Linked DNA regions of Homo sapiens. The protein of the gene in region 5 interacts with the protein of the main gene of each other region in a biochemical or structural test. Each region holds a gene or a part of one and is shown on either strand. Other genes may lie near its edges.

What was found.
Region 1: of the proteins of USP11 (region 5) and RPS6KB1, one has a biochemical effect on the other in vitro, tested with the Homo sapiens proteins (one study listed by BioGRID).
Region 2: the proteins of USP11 (region 5) and LLGL1 form a complex in vitro, tested with the Homo sapiens proteins (one study listed by BioGRID).
Region 3: the proteins of USP11 (region 5) and RANBP9 form a complex in vitro, tested with the Homo sapiens proteins (one study listed by BioGRID).
Region 4: of the proteins of USP11 (region 5) and EIF4B, one has a biochemical effect on the other in vitro, tested with the Homo sapiens proteins (one study listed by BioGRID).

The regions. Positions count from the first base shown.
Region 1 is NC_000017.11:59,896,112-59,899,631, forward strand, and holds part of RPS6KB1 (ribosomal protein S6 kinase beta-1), read left to right. Parts: intron 1-3,520. UniProt on the Homo sapiens protein: Serine/threonine-protein kinase that acts downstream of mTOR signaling in response to growth factors and nutrients to promote cell proliferation, cell growth and cell cycle progression.
Region 2 is NC_000017.11:18,228,617-18,232,136, forward strand, and holds part of LLGL1 (lethal(2) giant larvae protein homolog 1), read left to right. Parts: intron 1-1,324; coding exon 1,325-1,422; intron 1,423-3,520. UniProt on the Homo sapiens protein: Cortical cytoskeleton protein found in a complex involved in maintaining cell polarity and epithelial integrity. Involved in the regulation of mitotic spindle orientation, proliferation, differentiation and tissue organization of neuroepithelial cells.
Region 3 is NC_000006.12:13,642,333-13,645,852, forward strand, and holds part of RANBP9 (ran-binding protein 9), read right to left. Parts: intron 2,398-3,520; coding exon 2,213-2,397; intron 260-2,212; coding exon 147-259; intron 1-146. UniProt on the Homo sapiens protein: May act as scaffolding protein, and as adapter protein to couple membrane receptors to intracellular signaling pathways. Acts as a mediator of cell spreading and actin cytoskeleton rearrangement.
Region 4 is NC_000012.12:53,016,444-53,019,963, reverse strand, and holds part of EIF4B (eukaryotic translation initiation factor 4B), read right to left. Parts: intron 3,492-3,520; coding exon 3,354-3,491; intron 1,167-3,353; coding exon 958-1,166; intron 55-957; coding exon 1-54. UniProt on the Homo sapiens protein: Required for the binding of mRNA to ribosomes. Functions in close association with EIF4-F and EIF4-A. Binds near the 5'-terminal cap of mRNA in presence of EIF-4F and ATP.
Region 5 is NC_000023.11:47,243,006-47,245,935, forward strand, and holds part of USP11 (ubiquitin carboxyl-terminal hydrolase 11), read left to right. Parts: intron 1-390; coding exon 391-597; intron 598-1,492; coding exon 1,493-1,545; intron 1,546-1,676; coding exon 1,677-1,919; intron 1,920-2,010; coding exon 2,011-2,081; intron 2,082-2,364; coding exon 2,365-2,477; intron 2,478-2,930.

The DNA.
Region 1 (3,520 bases), on a different chromosome or scaffold from region 5:
GGGGAGAAAACTGGATAGGAAGGTGCTTTATATCTTCATTAGTTGAACTGATAGAATTTCCAGACTGGGTTTATTTTATTTTATTTTTTTTTCTTTTCTGAGACAGAGTCTTGCTCTATTTGCCCAGGCTGGAGTGCAATGGCGCTATCTCGGCTCACTGCAGCCTCCACTTCCCGGGTTCAAGCGATTCTCCTGCCTCAGCCTCCCGAGTAGCTGGGATTACAGGCACCCGCCACCAGGCCCGGCTAATTTTTGTATTTTTAGTAGAGACGGGGTTTCTCCATGTTGGTCAGGCTGGTCCGGAACTTCCAAACTTGGGTGATCTGCCTGCCTTGGCCTCTCAAAATACAGGTGTGAGCCACCGCACCCAGCCAGGTTTATTCTTTTTTGAAAGTACAGTACTCTGTTAAAATTCCTGTGTAAACTGGGACTTTTCTTTTCACTTTCTTGTGTTTCAAGAACAGTAGGTGTTCCAGGGCTTTTGTCCTGCTGGGTACAAGCAAGTAGGATTTTGAGAAGGTGTGAGGAGGAGGTCAGAAAAATTGGTGGAAATAGGAAAGAGAAAGAAATATGGCCCCGATTTTGGGGAGAGAAAGTCTGGGGAAAGAGCAAAGGCAATTAAAGAGGATTTTGAGGAAGAGACTTCTGTAAAATATGTCTTAGCAACACTTTTTGGAGTTGAAAATATTTCTTTTTAGTGTGTTATTTTTTCTAAGAGGTGCCTCAAGATGGATAATGGAAGATTTGGAGTACGATTGGGTTGACAATCCAAGGAGATTCGGTGACATCCAGATTACCCTGAAATAAAAAAAAAAAAAAATTCTGGAAAATGAGAGAAGTTTAGATTCTTAGAAAATCTTCTGATAGTTTCTATTTGTGAATTTATAGACTTTAATTTATTACACAAAGTTTTTAAACATTGGTGCATATCAGTTTTCCTCATTTTATAGTAAGGAAACTGAGGCATAGGCCATATGATAGCCAAAGATCACATAGTGGTAGTGTCTTCTGACTTAATTCAGCAGGCTTCATTGCACAGGTTCTTCATTGCATTTACTAGTTGTGTTTATAATGTTCCTCTTTGTGGTATGTCAAAAGTGAATTCAGATTCCTTTGGCCATACTCACTCTGTGACCTGGAGTAAATTCCTTAATCTCTAATGTTTTCTATAACATGAGGGTTACATTAAATAAGTACGTAAAGTACAGTACTCTCAAAATATCCTGGCGTATTAAGCAATTAGCTAGTTCACAGAAATTCAGCTTGTCTTGTCATTGCTAAGGAACCAATCATTCAGGTTTAACCTCGTATACCTAGAGACTTAATAATTGCAGTTAAACTCGAGGTGCTGTATTTTTACAACTGTAGTATCATAGTGTGTATTTTTTTTTAAAACTAATTGATCCCGTTTAGAGAGATGTGCCTTTCAAGGTACGTTACAGAGTGACTATGCGTTAGTAAATATAGGTATTTCCATAGTTTATTTAATTAGAGATTAAAAGATGAGACTAAATGATACATTTATGGACAAAGTTGAATATCTGCCACCTAACTTAAAAAAGATCCTGTTTAAGGCCGGGCACAGTGGCTCATGCCTGTAATCCCAGCACTTTGGGAGGCCGAGGCAGGTGGATCACGATGTCAGGAGCAGGAGACCAGCCTGGCCAATATGGTGAAACCCAGTTTCTACTAAAAATACAAAAATTAGCCAGGCATGGTGGTGCACACCTCTAGTCCCAGCTATTCAGGAGGCTGAGGCAGGAGAATCTCTTGAACCTGGGAGGTGGAGGTTGCAGTGAGCCAAGATCATACCACTGCACTCCAGCCTGGGCGACACAGTGAGATTCCGTCTCAAAAAAAAAAAAAAAAGATTCTGTTTAAATATCTCAGAGGAATATAATCAAAGCCTATTGGTAAGAGGGGAGTTTTTGGGCGGAGGGTGTCTTTTTTGTTTGTTTTTTTGTTTCACTGTTGATGATATCATTTGGGGCAGTAAATTGAAACTAAGGAAAAGTTTTCCTTCAGAGAATTTAGATTGCAAAAATGTTGGAATCTTCTCTGCTCTCTATAGCATTAAGAGTAGTAGAAAACTGTAATGCAATTTAAAAAATTCTCACTTTGTACTCTAATTCAAAATTTGAAATAATCACGCAGGCTTACTGTACAAGTTTCAGATTGGGACATCAGATTTTTATTGAGTAAAAGGTTTAAAATTTTTGAAAACCAAAGTGCTATATAGATAGTATATACTCAAATATTCATGATTATGAAAAATTATAGAAAAAATATCAATACTTATCTTGCTTTGTAATATATACTTACTATAAAGCAGCAACTTTTTTTTATTTTTTATTTTTTTGAGACGGAGTTTTGCTCTTGTGGCCCAGGCTGGAGTGCAGTGGTGCGATCTCGGCTCACTGCAACCTCTGCCTCCTGGGTTCAAGCTATTCTCCTGCCTCAGCCTCCCGAGTAGCTGGGATTACAGGTGCCGACTACCACACCCAGCTAATTTTTTGTATTTTTTTGGTAGAGACGGGGTTTCACCATGTTGGCCAGGCTGGTCTCAAACTCTTGACTTCAGGCGATACACCTGCCTCGGCCTCCCAAAGTGCTGGGATTACAGGCATGAGCCACCGTGCCCGGCCAGCAGCAACTATTTTTAAATAGCCCAAGAGTTTAGGCAAAGTTCTACCCTTTCTTCCATTTCCTCTAAGTTACTGAATCTTGTCAATCCTAATGAACACAGCAGACATTGGATAGGCCATAAAGCTTAAGGCAGCAGAAAAAAATTAGGAGTAAAGAGTTTCCTGGCCAGGCGGGGTGGCTCATGCCTGTAATCCCAGCACTTTGGGAGGCCAAGGTGGGCAGATCACCTGAGGTCAGGGGTTCGAGACCAGCCTGGCCAACATGGTGAAAACCCCGTCTCTATTAAAAATACAAAAATTAGCCGGGCCTGGTGTCAGGCACCTGTAATCCCAGCTACTCGGGAGGCTGAGGCAGGAGAATCACTTGAACCTGGGAGGCAGAGGTTGCAGTGAGCCAAGATCGCGCCATTGTTCTCCAGCCTGGGGGACAAGAGCAAGACTTCGTCTCAGAAAAAAAAAAAAAAGGAGTAAAGAGTTTCCTGTGAAAGAGAGTTGTCAGTATGTATTACATAATGTTATTTGACACTTCTTGTGTGAGCCTTCTAGAGGTAACACTGAGTAGCAGGAAAGATTTGTGCCTCAAATGCTTCTGTCCTAGACAGTAACGGTAGAAGTTATTAGCACAATATGCAGGTGCCAGCATTATAGGTCTGGCCAGCTTAGGAAATGAAACATAGCTACAGGGCGTATCTTGTGAGGTGGCTTCAAAATCATGGTCCAGTCTTAACTACTCTGTAGTCTTTAATTTAGAATTAAGTAAAACTAACATTAAAGAAAAAACAATTATGTAATACCAGTTTTATCACATCTGGAAGAAGTTAGTCTTTTGTCATAAAAGTGAAGCCATCCTAGGCGATTACGTAGAGCAACAAAGA
Region 2 (3,520 bases), on a different chromosome or scaffold from region 5:
GTAACCTCCTTTCCTCGTTTGTAAAATGGGAAGGCTGTGGGGATTTGCGATGCAGTGTCCCGTCTCTGGACCCTGGTTGTAGCGAGGGACTGGCTAGACAAGGTCAGGTGCAGCAAGGGCGTGGTATTATTGGTGGGAGAGAGAAGCCCCAGCCAAATCGCCAACTCTGTCCTTAGGTGGGCTTACTGTCCCAAGGGCCCAGATGAGAGACTGAAGCTTGGAGAGTACTGAGTCTTGGAGAGTACTGTGACTTGCCCAAGGCCAGACAGCTAGGCCGTGACCAAACCAGCTGCCCAGAGGGCTCAGTCCCCACCTGGATGGGCAGAGGCAGGCAGGGAGGGAGGTTCGCGTTACAGGCTGGGAACTGGGGTTTCTTACAAATGTGCATCTTCCTGAGGCAGTGGGTCAGGAATTACCAGTGGTAAAAGTGAAAAATAAATAACAACAACAAGATAAAAGGAGTTACCAGTGGCCCACGTGGGTGTCCTGCACTGGTGTTCAGGATGGGGCTGGAGCTCAGCTGTGCAGGCTTCCCAGGGAGGGCACAGCCAGGCCAAAGACAGGAGACTGGTGCAGAAAGGGTGTGCTGTGAAAGGGGCAGGGGAGCGGGTGGGGAGCTGTTTCATCGACACTCTGGGCACACAGACCCCCTTAACACCATCTCCGCCCCTGATGGTTATGGGAGTCATGTTGCCCAGCTGTTGGCAGGTGGGGAGGTGGGAGGATGCCTTCGGGGTCCAGGCAGAAAGCTACCCCTCTCTGGGCCTCTGTCTCCCTGTGTCTGGGAGGAGTCAAAAGCCTCTGCCTAGCTGATCCTGGATGTTGTCCCTTGACCTCTGACCTCCACTCAGGCCTGTGTTTGGGGAGTGTCATGGTCATCTTGCGGGACTCCTCCGCAAGCTTTAGTCTGTGCCTCTAAAAATGGGGTGCAGAGCCCTTCATGGAGCAGGTGGGGCCTCATCAGTGCCTGCACCTCTGTGAGCCTTGCTTCACCTGTTTGTTGCTGGAGCCTCCATGCAGTGGGGCCCACATGAGCCTGTGTGCATTGAGGGGCACAGGGGCTTGGCAAAGGGCGGGCCTCTGTGGACTATGCACGCGGTACAGTCATGGTGGAGGCTAGGGGTTTAGCCACCTCCCCACCAACTGGAGGCATGATAACCCATTTCACAGTTGAGGACGCTGAGGCACAGAGCAAGTAGACCTGCCTCCTACCCCCAGTGTGTCAGCTGCAGACCCTGGAGGCTGCCTTGGGGTGGGCCTCAGGGTGGGCCATGGCAGAGGTGCCTGGGAGTGCTTACCCCCAGCAGCCCTCCCCTCCTTGCAGACTGTGGAGCATGGCTTCCCCAATCAGCCCAGCGCCCTGGCCTTCGACCCGGAACTTCGCATCATGGCCATCGGCACCAGGTCTGGGGCTGTCAAGATGTATCCTTTGCAGGACAGGTGTTCAGGGTCTGTTCAGGACCACCTGCCTGTAGTTCCCTGTGCTCTGGGGTCCCAGTCTTGGCAGTGTCCAGCTCGAGAGGAGGACAGAGGTGCTCTGATGGGCAGTAGTGGGGGCTTCTGCGGAGGTTGGCGTGGCTTCTGTACCTGAGACAACTGTGCAGAGATGATGGGGTCCTTTTGCTGAGAGACGGGTGGTGGGGGGTCAGTTTGCAGTAGCACAGCTGTCCCTTGCTACGTGTCAGCCAGCCAGTTACCTAGGCGACCCTGCCATCGTCCCAGCAACTCTGGGGAGGCCAGGCAGAAGGCTGGGCTATGATACCCATGGAGGGTGGCAGGTGGGCTGGGGGCCCTGGTGAGCTGATGCACACATGTGTGAATGTGAAGACACATGTGTTCAGCAAAGGGGCCTGGGGGCAGTGCCAGGCTCGGCATGGTGAGCACAGCACGGCCCCCACCTGGATACTGGCTGCTGCACAATGGGCTGTGTGAGCCACACAAAGCGGGCATTTTCCCTGCAGGCCTGGGGTGGGGGTGGGGGCAGGCCGGCAGCTCAGTGTCTCCTTGCCAGCCCTGGAGAATCCCACCCCAACTGCTCTTGGGGAAGCCGAGGTGCCAGGGTCTGGCTGATGGCGGCTTGGTGAGGGGTGCTGACCCCTACCCCTCCTGTGTGGCCTTCTGGGTTTCAGTATCCTGGTTTCAGACATCAGTTCCCAGAAAATGTGTCAGTGCTGGGAAAGGGGAGGGTGTGGGATGGGGGTCTCCTCACCCCAGGACTGGGGGCACTGATCAGGCAGGGATGGGACTCTGAGCCTGTGGTTTGTGAGCTCTTTGCCTACTCTGGGGAGTGTGGATGGGCTGAGATGTCCCCTTCTCTCCCATGGCCCCAGCGGCCTCTGTTGGTGAGTGTGGCAGTGCTCTGGGCCCCACATGCTCCGCTGCCTGGCCTGCTGCTCCCACTCCTGTGGGTGCTGCGCTGCGTGCGCACATGTGTCCCTGCAGCCTTCAGGTGTCCCTCCTGTGTTGGGGTCTCCAGTGCACTTGTCCTCAGGCTCAAAAAGAACCTGAAGTGCAGATGAGGAGACTGAGCCTCAGAAAGGAGGCTGGAGCCCGGGGTCCTCTTCCCTTTTTCCCCTGACTGCCACTGCCTGGAGCCCCTTGGGTTGGGAAACTGAGGCTGGAGAGGGCCAGCCCTGGTCACTAGAAGCTGCCCCTCCCCCTGCCAGGCCAGCCCCATCTCCTTGACGACCCTGGTTCCCGCCCAGCTGCTCCTGTCCCCTCTTTTGTCCCTTCTTCGGAGTTTCTCGCCAGGCTCCTGTAGGGAATCTGAGCTCAAGCTCCAGGCAACGGCTCCTGTGTTGTCACCGGGGCAACGTTGCTGACTCCTCCCTGCACCCTCTGTCATGGGGCCCCCTCAGGCCCTGCTGTCCACCATCAGCCCTGGAGTTGCCGGGACTCAGGCACTGACACTGGGCACTTCAAGCAGGTCATCCACCCCCTCCAAGTCTGTGTGCTCATCTGTGAAATGGGCAGGCTGGAGTCTCTCCTCCCTCATGATGGCAGTTGTTGGCTGCCTGCTTTGGAGGGAGGTGGGTTTTTTTTGTTTTGTTTTGTTTTTTTGAGATGGAGTCTTGCTCTTTGTTGCCCAGGCTGGAGTGCAGTCGCACAGTTTTGGCTCACTGCAACCTTTGCCTCCCGGGTTCAAGCAGTTCTCTGCCTCAGCCTCCCAAATAGCTGGGATTACAGGTGCCTGCCAGCATGCCCGGCTAATTTTTGCGTTTTTAGTAGAGACGAGGTTTCACCATCTTGGCCAGGCTGGTCCTCAACTCCTGACCTTGTGATCTACCTGCCTCGGCCTCCCAAAGTGCTGGGATTACAGGAGCGAGCCACCGTGCCCAGAGGAGGTGGGTTTTCTTACCCATGGCTGAAGTTTGGCCTGAAGCTGTGGGAAAAGGCAGCCTGGACTCTTCTGCCCCCTGGCTTTCTTGTCCAGGCCTGGCCTTGCACCTCTGGCCTGCCTGATCCCATCCGGCAAGGCGCAGCTCCCAGAACCCATAGACACACGGAGCTGAAGTGGAGC
Region 3 (3,520 bases), on a different chromosome or scaffold from region 5:
GTCAGTGAAAATAAAATTCAGAGGCATCCATTTTAAATTAATATATTTGAAATTTTTTTAATTAAAAAAACAAAATTTCTAAAAATTAAAGTAACCAAATCTATAATCTGAAAACAAATGTTAGCCATGCACCACAGTGTCCTTACTTTGTCTATTCTTAATGGAAGCTAATTCTTCTAGAACGGTCTGGTCTGTAGATCTGGCAAAGGCCTCTGCTGTGGCACAGTACCCATGGTGGACTAAATAAGATGAAACCATTCTTAAAATAAAAAGAAGAAACATACATCTTTTAGTGAAGAGAATACATGCTTCATACTACAATTTATATAAACAAAATCTATTCTGGTGTTATAAAAACGAACCTATTTCCTTGAAACAAGGCGTTAAGAACCTCACCTTTAAAGTAAGCTTTTGAAAAACATCATTTTGTTCTATTCATGTACTATTTTCGAAAAGATAACTGCAAATGCTATGTTGAGACTACTCTCCCTAAAATAAATATTACTTGAGAATCAAGGACATTAAATGACCTTTTCTTTGATTCTTGGACTCTCATTACCCCCAGGTCCCTTCCTATCTTATTATTCAGCCCTACTAACCATAATTTCTATTTTGACTTTATCATATGACTTATTCCAGTATTGCTGGCATTCTGTAAAATAACCAACTTTAAAATAAAAGATTAACTCTTAATGTTCCAGAGTTCAACCATCTTCTTTACACACCGGTTAAATGAAGTGGGATCACAAAGTATGTACAGAATACTAAGGTGAATCCAGAGAGACAATCTTCCAGAACATGTCTATAAGTGTACTACTAATTAAAGGAGGAATCAGCCTTCTAATCTAAATCAATTACTATGGTTTTACCCAAGAGATTTATCAAATATGGTTTACATGTAAGTGACACATTTCCAAGACAATAATCTTTTAAAAACGTACCAGGTAGTCAAAACATATACTTACATCTACCCACAAGATGTGGTTAGAAAAACTGGTGATGCAACAATATTAACCCAAATATCTGTTATCTCCAAACAGTCAATTTTTAAACTTGCCTCCACCTGACACTACTAAGGGCCAGTTAGAAAATCGTGGGAAGCAGTGGTTCACCACAGGAGGAGACTGAGGCAAAGAGCGGAGGGAGAAAAGGGAGGAAAATGTCTAAGAAACAGATCTGCATCTTATTTTACCCAATTGTTCAAATTAATTTAAGGGGGAGGGGACCTTTTAGAATGGACTTCTCAAGAGTTCATGGTGAACATCAAGTCAGTGAAGAAGTGGGTGGAAGGATCCTGGTTATAAGGTTAAGATAAATGTTTTCTACTATCTTGCCATGATACTCAGTGGTAACCATTTTCAGAGCATTAAAACAGTGTGGCCCCAGAACAACCCATTCTAGCTTCACTTCGTGGTGACTATAGGATTCTGCATCAGGGTTGTCTATTCTCAACTGGGCTGGACAAAAAAACTAGTGTCCAATCTCTGTAATACAGATGATAATAGCTCCAGGGACGAAGTGTGATTTCAGAGTCATCATCATGTCTCCCAATCACTTCCTTTTCTAAAAAATACCCCCAACATTTTATTACAATTTTAAAGTTAAGAATATTCAAAGCAATTATAAGGACATTAAAGATGAAATGTGTTGGACCAACTGTATCTGAAAGTCTGCTATTTTCTTGACCTGGATTATAATAGTGAAGAGGACTTTTTAAATTTAATGGTATTTATTTAAATTTTAAGTCCATACTTAACTACTGCTGATAGTTCAGATATTAAGAGCTTGGACATAGCCAAGTTCATGACCAAAAACCACAGATCCTGATTATAAGATCTAGATTATCTCTCAACTTTATCTTTTCCATTAACATTATTAAAAGTTAAATTGTATAACCTACAGAAATCATTAAATCCTATTACTAAGAATAGCAAATGAATTAACCTAGCCTAGGTGACCTAACATCATTTTATTTCCTTCATCAAATTAATTCAGACTGAAATACAATTCTGTACGTGTGTCAAACAATTGTTTTTAATTTGTTTAAATAGTGGAGTAAATTACTTTTCGTTGAGAGATTAAAATCAATAATATAATAGATATGTCAGTATATAAATTAGTGGATTAAAAAGCTTCTGTGGATACCAACAGAATAAATGTCTTATAAAAAACAGATTCTGAATAGCATCAATTGAAATTTCTTCACTCTTACTTTTGTATCATGGTCTGCCATTCTCCTTCTCGATCTCCGATAGGAAATCGATCTATCTGTGCCTGGATTTTGGTTCTCCACTCCCGCATATAGTCTTCTATATCAAACACGAAAGGATGTTGCCCAAAATTGGCATCGACCACTTCTCCTGGTGTTTGAAGCCCCACAGTAGGATACAAATTTGGCTGTAAGATAGCATATTTCATTAAACATCTATCCATTTTATGTTAGATTTAATAATTCTTTTAATGTTACATTTAAAAGAATAGAACTATAAATTTACTTCATATTTTAAAATCCCAATCAAAATATTAGAAGGCTAAAACAAATGATCTAAAATACATTATATGTTAGATGAAAAAATATCACTTCCTGCAATGTAATCATCAAGAAAAAACAAAGAGACCCAAGATCTCTGTTTTATTTATTCAGGGACTACGTTGTATTATACCACGTGGTATTATGCTACTAATATATGTGCATGTAATTCTTGTTCTAAGATTATGTCATATAGTAGTTACAGAAATTCAACTATAAACACATAACTCAGGTTTATCCCACATTTTATATATGATACATTTCTATAAACTGCATGTTAAAGCTAGTTATCATAAAAGTATGATCTCAGCTAGTCTGGCATTTAATAGCTTAAATTTACTGTTTTCATTCTGTATATTTGGGATGCCTAACTTTACAAAGGGAAGGGGATAAGACCATAACTATAAGCAAAACACAGTGCCAGGAAGAGTGGAGATTCTCTATATTAAAAAAAAAACACAAAACCTCAAATATATGTATTTCAAGGGAGGAAAAGGATGAATCTGAATATACCCAAACTCAGAAATGCATTCAGGTACACTCCATGGTTTCAAGGTTAATCAAGATGAAAAGGTGATAACTTCAAGTAAACAAAAAATACAGGGGTCATTCTTTTGGCTATGTCACTAATTGGTTGTTACATCTAAAGGCAGAATGAGTTTCTGAGTGGCTACTAAATGCCAGGGTTTAATCATAATTCTGTGAGGCCACTATTATTATTTCTACTTCAAAGACAGAGAAAATGAGGATTCAAGGTTAAATAACTTGCTCATGGTCGTTCTGCTAACAAATGGCAGAGATGGAATTGGAACACAAGTTTGTCTGATACCACATCCAAAACTGATTTTTCCTCTTGCAACTCCAAATCCTACCATATTTTCATTTTCTGTATTTATGTCTTATATCTTTAATAGTTATAACAAGTATTTTTCAGTACAAAACAAGGTAAAGATCAAGAGCGGATAATTTCTGTGTGAATATGTTAAATAG
Region 4 (3,520 bases), on a different chromosome or scaffold from region 5:
ACCTTTCAACCTCTCTGGATTGCTGGGTTCACGTGGTAAACGCACTGCACTGATCTGAAGGAATAAGAATCAACAACAAAGTTTCCCAGCATTCTTCTTCATTTGTCATTTTTTGAGAGGACTACAAAAGCATTACTGTATGTGCATGAATTTTTCTGAATACACAAGAACATGGTTGTCTCAGGAGGAAAACTGATGCAGAGGGATAGTAGAAACTTTACTAAATGCCCTATTATACCTTCTGAATTTTGAACTGTATGAATTTAACTCTAAAAAAAAAAAAAAAAAGATTAATTCAGGCCAGGTGCAGTGGCTCATGCCTGTAGTCCCAGCACTTTGGGAGGCCGAAGCAGGTGGATCCTCTGAGGTCAGGAGTTCAAGACCAGCCTGACCAACATAGTGCAACCCTATCTCTACTAAATACAAAAAATTAGCTGGGCATGTAATCCACTGTACTCCAGCCTGGATGACAGAATGAGACTCTGTCTCAAAAAAAAAAAAAAAAAAAAAAAAGAAAAAAAAAAAATATATATATATATAATTTTGATTTTATTTTTTTTCTTTGAGATGGTGTTTCACTCTTGTTGCCCAGGCTGGAGTGCAATGGCGCAATCTCGGCTCACCACAACCTCCGTCTTCCAGGTTCAAGCAATTCTCCTACCTCAGCCTCCCAAGTAGCTGGGATTACAGACGTGTACCACCACGCCCAGCTAATTTTTGTATTCTTAGTAGAGACAGGGTCTCACCACGTTAGCCAGGCTGGACTCGAATTCCTGACCTCAAATGATCCACCCGCCTCAGACTCCCAGAGTGCTGGGATTACAGGCGTGAGCCACCATTCCCGGCCTTAAATTATATTTCTAGTTGTTTTTTCAACAGCAACTGCCCATTCCACAATTAGTCTTTTTTAGACATTATCCTCAATATCTAGTTAATTATTACAACTTTTACACTTACATTTAATCCTCGAAAGAATTCCTTAATTGACTCTTCTGTAACATCATAGGGTAGGTTTCCTAGAAAAGCAGTGTAGGGTGGCGATTTGGGAAGACGGCTCCGGTCGATATTGGGTTCCCGAGCAGCCCGTGGAGCAGTGGGAAGGATGGAACGGTCAATTGGAGGCGCCCTATACACATCGTCATCGTTACTGTGCCAAGTGGTCGAAACTAGGATAGAGGAATGAATGTAAGAAATTAGAAGAAACTTCTCTCACTACTGTCATAGAACAAGAGGACCCATGTTAATTGCCAAATATTAAACATGCTATACAAGAAAACCAGACCAAAAAAAGTGGGGGTTCAGTAATAAGGGCACTTTACGAAGAGAAGCTTCTGAGATTAATTATGACACCTTAATCTTTATGTAAGCAAAGAAATATTATTCCATAAATACAACTCTTTATGGAATATTACTGTGTGCCAGCTACTTTATATTCATTATATCCCATCTTATCTTTTTAACAGTCCTGTGAGGTTGTCCCCCATTCTACAGAAAAGCAAACTCAGATTTCAGACAGTAATTTGCCCAAGGTCACAGACGGTAAAGCTAGGATTCAAACCTGGGTCCCTCTTACTCCAGGTATATTTAACCACTACTGACAACTCTTGTATTCCTAGTGGTGAGTTTGAAGTTGAGTATTTTTCTGCATGGTCTATCCTCCCTTAAAAACAACAACAGGCCTGGCTCGGTGGCTCACACCTATAATCCCAACACTTCGGGAGGCCAAGGTGGGTGATCACCTGAGGTCAGGTTTGAGACCAGCCTGACCATTATGGTGAAACCCTGTCTCTACTAAAAATACAAAAATTAGCCAGGTGTGGTGGCATGTGCCAGTAATCCCATCTACTTGGGAGGCTGAGACAGGACAATCTATTGAACCGGGAGGCGGCAGTTGCAGTGGGCCAAGATATTGTGCCACTGCACTACAACCTGGGCGACAGAGTGAGACTCCATCTGAAAACAAACAAACAAAAATATCACAACAAAAATCTTTTCCTACAGCACTGTCCATGAATTTGTACTTCAGATACCAACACCTATGGGAAGTACGACCTATATAAAATTTCCTGTTTTGGCCGGGTGCAGTGGCTCATGCCTGTAATCCCAGCACTTTGGGAGGCTGAGGCAGGTGGGTCATGAGGTCAGGAGTTCAAGACCAGCCTGGCCAAAATGGTAAAACCCTGATTCTACTAAAAATACAAAATTTGCTGGGCGCGGTGGCGGGCACCTGTAATCCCAACTACTCAGGCGGCTGAGGCAGGAGAATCGCTTGAACCCCGGGAGCAGATGTTGCAGTGAGCAGAGAGTGCGCCACTTGCACCCCAGCCTGGGCAATAGAGACTCTGTCTCAAAAAAAATTTCCTGTTTTTAGGAATTATGAAAACAGGTCATAGGAAAAAATATTCTTTCAGCATGCAATAAACGATTTTCAGGAAAAAAACAATGGTAATGAGATTTATGTCATACCCGGTCATTATAAAACATAGCTCCTTATTATTCCTGGCGACTCCCTGAAGGCACAGAACTTGTCCAATTGACTCTTCTTTATTTTCCCACCATAATTACTGTTCTCACTCCTTTTCCTCAGACCATTTTCGTTTACCCAAGGACACTCTGATTTTATACTAATGACACCTGGAACTAATTATTCCTTGGCTCTGAGTAAACATAGCTTACAGATTACACTGAAACATCACTTTTTTTTTTTTTTTGAGATGGAGTCTCGCTCTGTCTCCCACGCTGGAGTGCAGTGGCATGATCTCAGCTCACTGCACCCTCCGCCTCCCAGGTTCAAGCAATTCTCCTGCCCCAGCCTCCCGAGTAGCTGAAATTACAGGCACATGCCACCACGCCCAGCTAATTTTTGTATTTTTAGTAGAGATGGGTTTTCACCATGTTGGCCAGGCTGGTCTTGAACTTCTCATCTCATGTGATCTGCCCACCTCGGCCTCCCAAAGTGCTGGGATTACAGGTGTAAGCCATCGCGAGCAGCCTGAAACATCACTTTATGAGGACCCCATAGAATTTTAGACCTAAAAGGAATTTTAAAAGATGATCTAGTTCTTACTTTTAAAATGAAGAAAATGAGGCCCAAAAGAATAGTAACTTAAGAAGTCTGTTAATGCAAGAACAAGAACTAGCAAAGCTCTCTTAAATGACCACTTCAGTCTTCACTGCAAAGTCTGACAGCCCAAACCTCAGATTAAACCTTAGATTCTATAAAATATGTAAGATTTCAGGTGCTAAAAAATGAGTAAGTTCTTTTCAGATTACAAACGATGTGAATTATTATGTAATAGGTTTTGTCTAGAAAATAATAAACATTCCAAACACGATGACAAAAGAAAAGTTACCATCTCCTTCCAGGTCATCCGTTTCATCAGCCCAGCTGACTGGTTTGGAAACATAGGTGCTTCCTCCACCAGTACCCCCATCCTCAGCCAGAAAGTCTGTTAGGGAGATAGTCTTCCCCTTCTTATTCTTCTTTTTTGCTGTTTTAAAAGGCAAGAGAAAGATTATT
Region 5 (2,930 bases):
GTAATCCCAGCACTTTGGGAGGCTGAAGCAGGCAGATCACGAGGTCAGGAGATGGAGACCATCCTGGCTAACACGGTGAAACCCCGTCTCTACTAAAAATACAAAAAATTAGCCGGGCGTGGTGGCAGGTGCCTGTAGTCCCAGCTACTCGGGAGGCTGAGGCAGGAGAATGGCATGAACCCGGGAGGCGGAGCTTGCAGTGAGCCGAGATCGTGCCACTGCACTGCAGCCTGGGCAACAGAGCGAGACTCCGTCTCAAAAATAAATAAATAAATAAATAAAAATAAAAATGCCTTCAGGCTGTGAGGATGAGTGGGTGGGGCAGCCAGGGCAGAGTCAGGGAGTCTCTGGGGGCCCTGATCAGGTGTGCCTGCTGTCCACCCCCCACAGCTATGAGGTGTCAGGTCGCATTGAGGCCATTGAGGGCTCAAGAGAGGACATCGTGGTTCCTGTCTACCTGCGGGAGCGCACCCCTGCCCGTGACTACAACAACTCCTACTACGGCCTGATGCTTTTTGGACACCCCCTCCTGGTATCAGTGCCCCGGGACCGCTTCACCTGGGAGGGCCTGTATAACGTCCTGATGTACCGGCTCTCGTAAGTGTCCTCTTCCCCGGGGGTGGGGGGCGGAGGGGTCTGAACTCCGACTTGGGTGTTTAGCTGCTTATTTGACACCTCCCCTGTAACAAACAAAAGACAGTCCAAACTTAACATGGCCATAGAAGAACTTGTAGGGTTTTTTCTTTCTCTAGACCTCTGGCTTTGCTACTGCCTGTCTTGGGTGCTAGGGATACAGAGGTGAACAAGATGCACAAAACAGACAACTTCATCTTGTCTTCAGTTGTCTCTCCTGGAGACTGTTGTCCCTCCTGGGAGAGTCTTGGTTTTTTTGTCTTTTTGCTGACAAATTTTCATTTTGCCTAAAATCTAGAGTCTTTACTGTGGCACACAAAGCATTGTGTTATCAGAATTCTCCCCCCTCATTTTGCATTCAAAAGTCATTCCCCAGAGGCTTTCCCTGATGGGAAGTTACAGCCGGTATGTGTCTTGTCTAGCAGTGGCTTATTAGAGTAAAAGTCCACGCTCCATACCTTTTTTTTTTTTTTTTTTTGAGATGGAGTCTTGCTCTGTTGCCCAGGCTGGAGTGTAGTGACATGATCTTGGCTCACTGCAACCTCCATCTCCCGGATTCAAGCGATTCTCCTGCCTCAGCCTCCCAAATAGCTGCAATTACAGCCGCGCGCCACCACGCCCAGCTAATCACACTCCACACCTCTGACTGGGACACAAGTTCCTTCATTCTCAGGCCACTGCTGACAGCCTTGGCCTCTTCATGCATTTACGCGTCACCCCTTCAGCCCTCTCACACCTCAGATTCAGAACGGTTTACATGTGGATCTACCAATGGCTTCCCATTATCTTAAGTAAAATCCCGGGCTCTATCCCCACTGTCCTTGTACCCGTCTTGGGAGTCTCCTCTGCTCTGTTGCAGACGCTACGTGACCAAACCCAACTCAGATGATGAGGACGATGGGGATGAGAAAGGTGAGGGGGCTAACAGTCAGTGGGCGGGGGCTCTGGGTTAGGTCTGACCCACGTAGGGTTCGTCTAGGTGTGCATTGCAGCTTAGCACTTGAGGCTCACACCTTCCCATCTCTGACATCCTCCTGTCCTAGAAGATGACGAGGAGGATAAAGATGACGTCCCTGGGCCCTCAACTGGGGGCAGCCTCCGAGACCCTGAGCCAGAGCAGGCTGGGCCCAGCTCTGGAGTCACGAACAGGTGCCCGTTCCTCCTGGACAATTGCCTTGGCACATCTCAGTGGCCCCCAAGGCGACGACGCAAGCAGCTGTTCACCCTGCAGACGGTGAACTCCAATGGGACCAGCGACCGCACAACCTCCCCTGAAGAAGTCCATGGTATTTCCTTTGGCTATCAGCGAGGGCTGGGGAGGCTGGAGGGGAGATTTCCTGGCAGCAGGATCCATGACCACCTCTCCCTCACCCCCAGCCCAGCCGTACATTGCTATCGACTGGGAGCCAGAGATGAAGAAGCGTTACTATGACGAGGTAGAGGCTGAGGTAAATGAGATCCCAGGGATGGGGGGTACTTCCAGCTCTTGCCCCTCAACTCTTCGTACATCCTCCCCACAACTCCTCTAGCTGGGAACAGAGCCAAGAGATCCAGGTCAAGCTTGGCCTTGGGGCCTGAACACCTACTGAGAGCTCCAGGGCCTGAGGTTCCTAGCTTCAAAGTCGGTGCTCTGACCCACTCAGTGTGTGTCTCCCCCGCTGGGCCCCCACTCCCCATTTCTCCATCTGTCCTCACAGCCGGCCATCTGGTTGTCTGTTCACCCAATCCTAGGGCTACGTGAAGCATGACTGCGTCGGGTACGTGATGAAGAAGGCTCCCGTGCGGCTGCAGGAGTGCATTGAGCTCTTCACCACTGTGGAGACCCTGGAGAAGGAAAACCCCTGGTGAGGGGCCAGAGCGGGGCCTGTGTGTGGGGGTTTCATTGGATGGAACTACTATATTTAGCTTTTTTTTTTTTTTTTTGAGACAGAGTCTGGCTCTGTCAACCCAGGCTGAAGTGCAGTGGTACAATCTCGGCTCAGTGCAACCTCTGCCTCCCAGGATCAAGCTGTTCTCCTGCCTAAGTCTCCTGAGTAGCTGGGATTATAGGCACCCACTACCATGCCTGGCTAATTTTTATATTTTTAGTAGAAACAGGTTTTGCCACGTTGGCCAGGCTGGTCTCGAACTCCTGACTAAAGATGATCCACCCGCCTTGGCCTTCCAAAGTGCTGGGATTACAGGCGTGAGCCACCACACCTGGCCTATATTTAGCTCTTTAAGTATACCTTCCTCCTCCCTCCTCCACACTCAAACCCTTCTTGCCAACCTGGCCACCAATCTCCTGAGCAGACTCC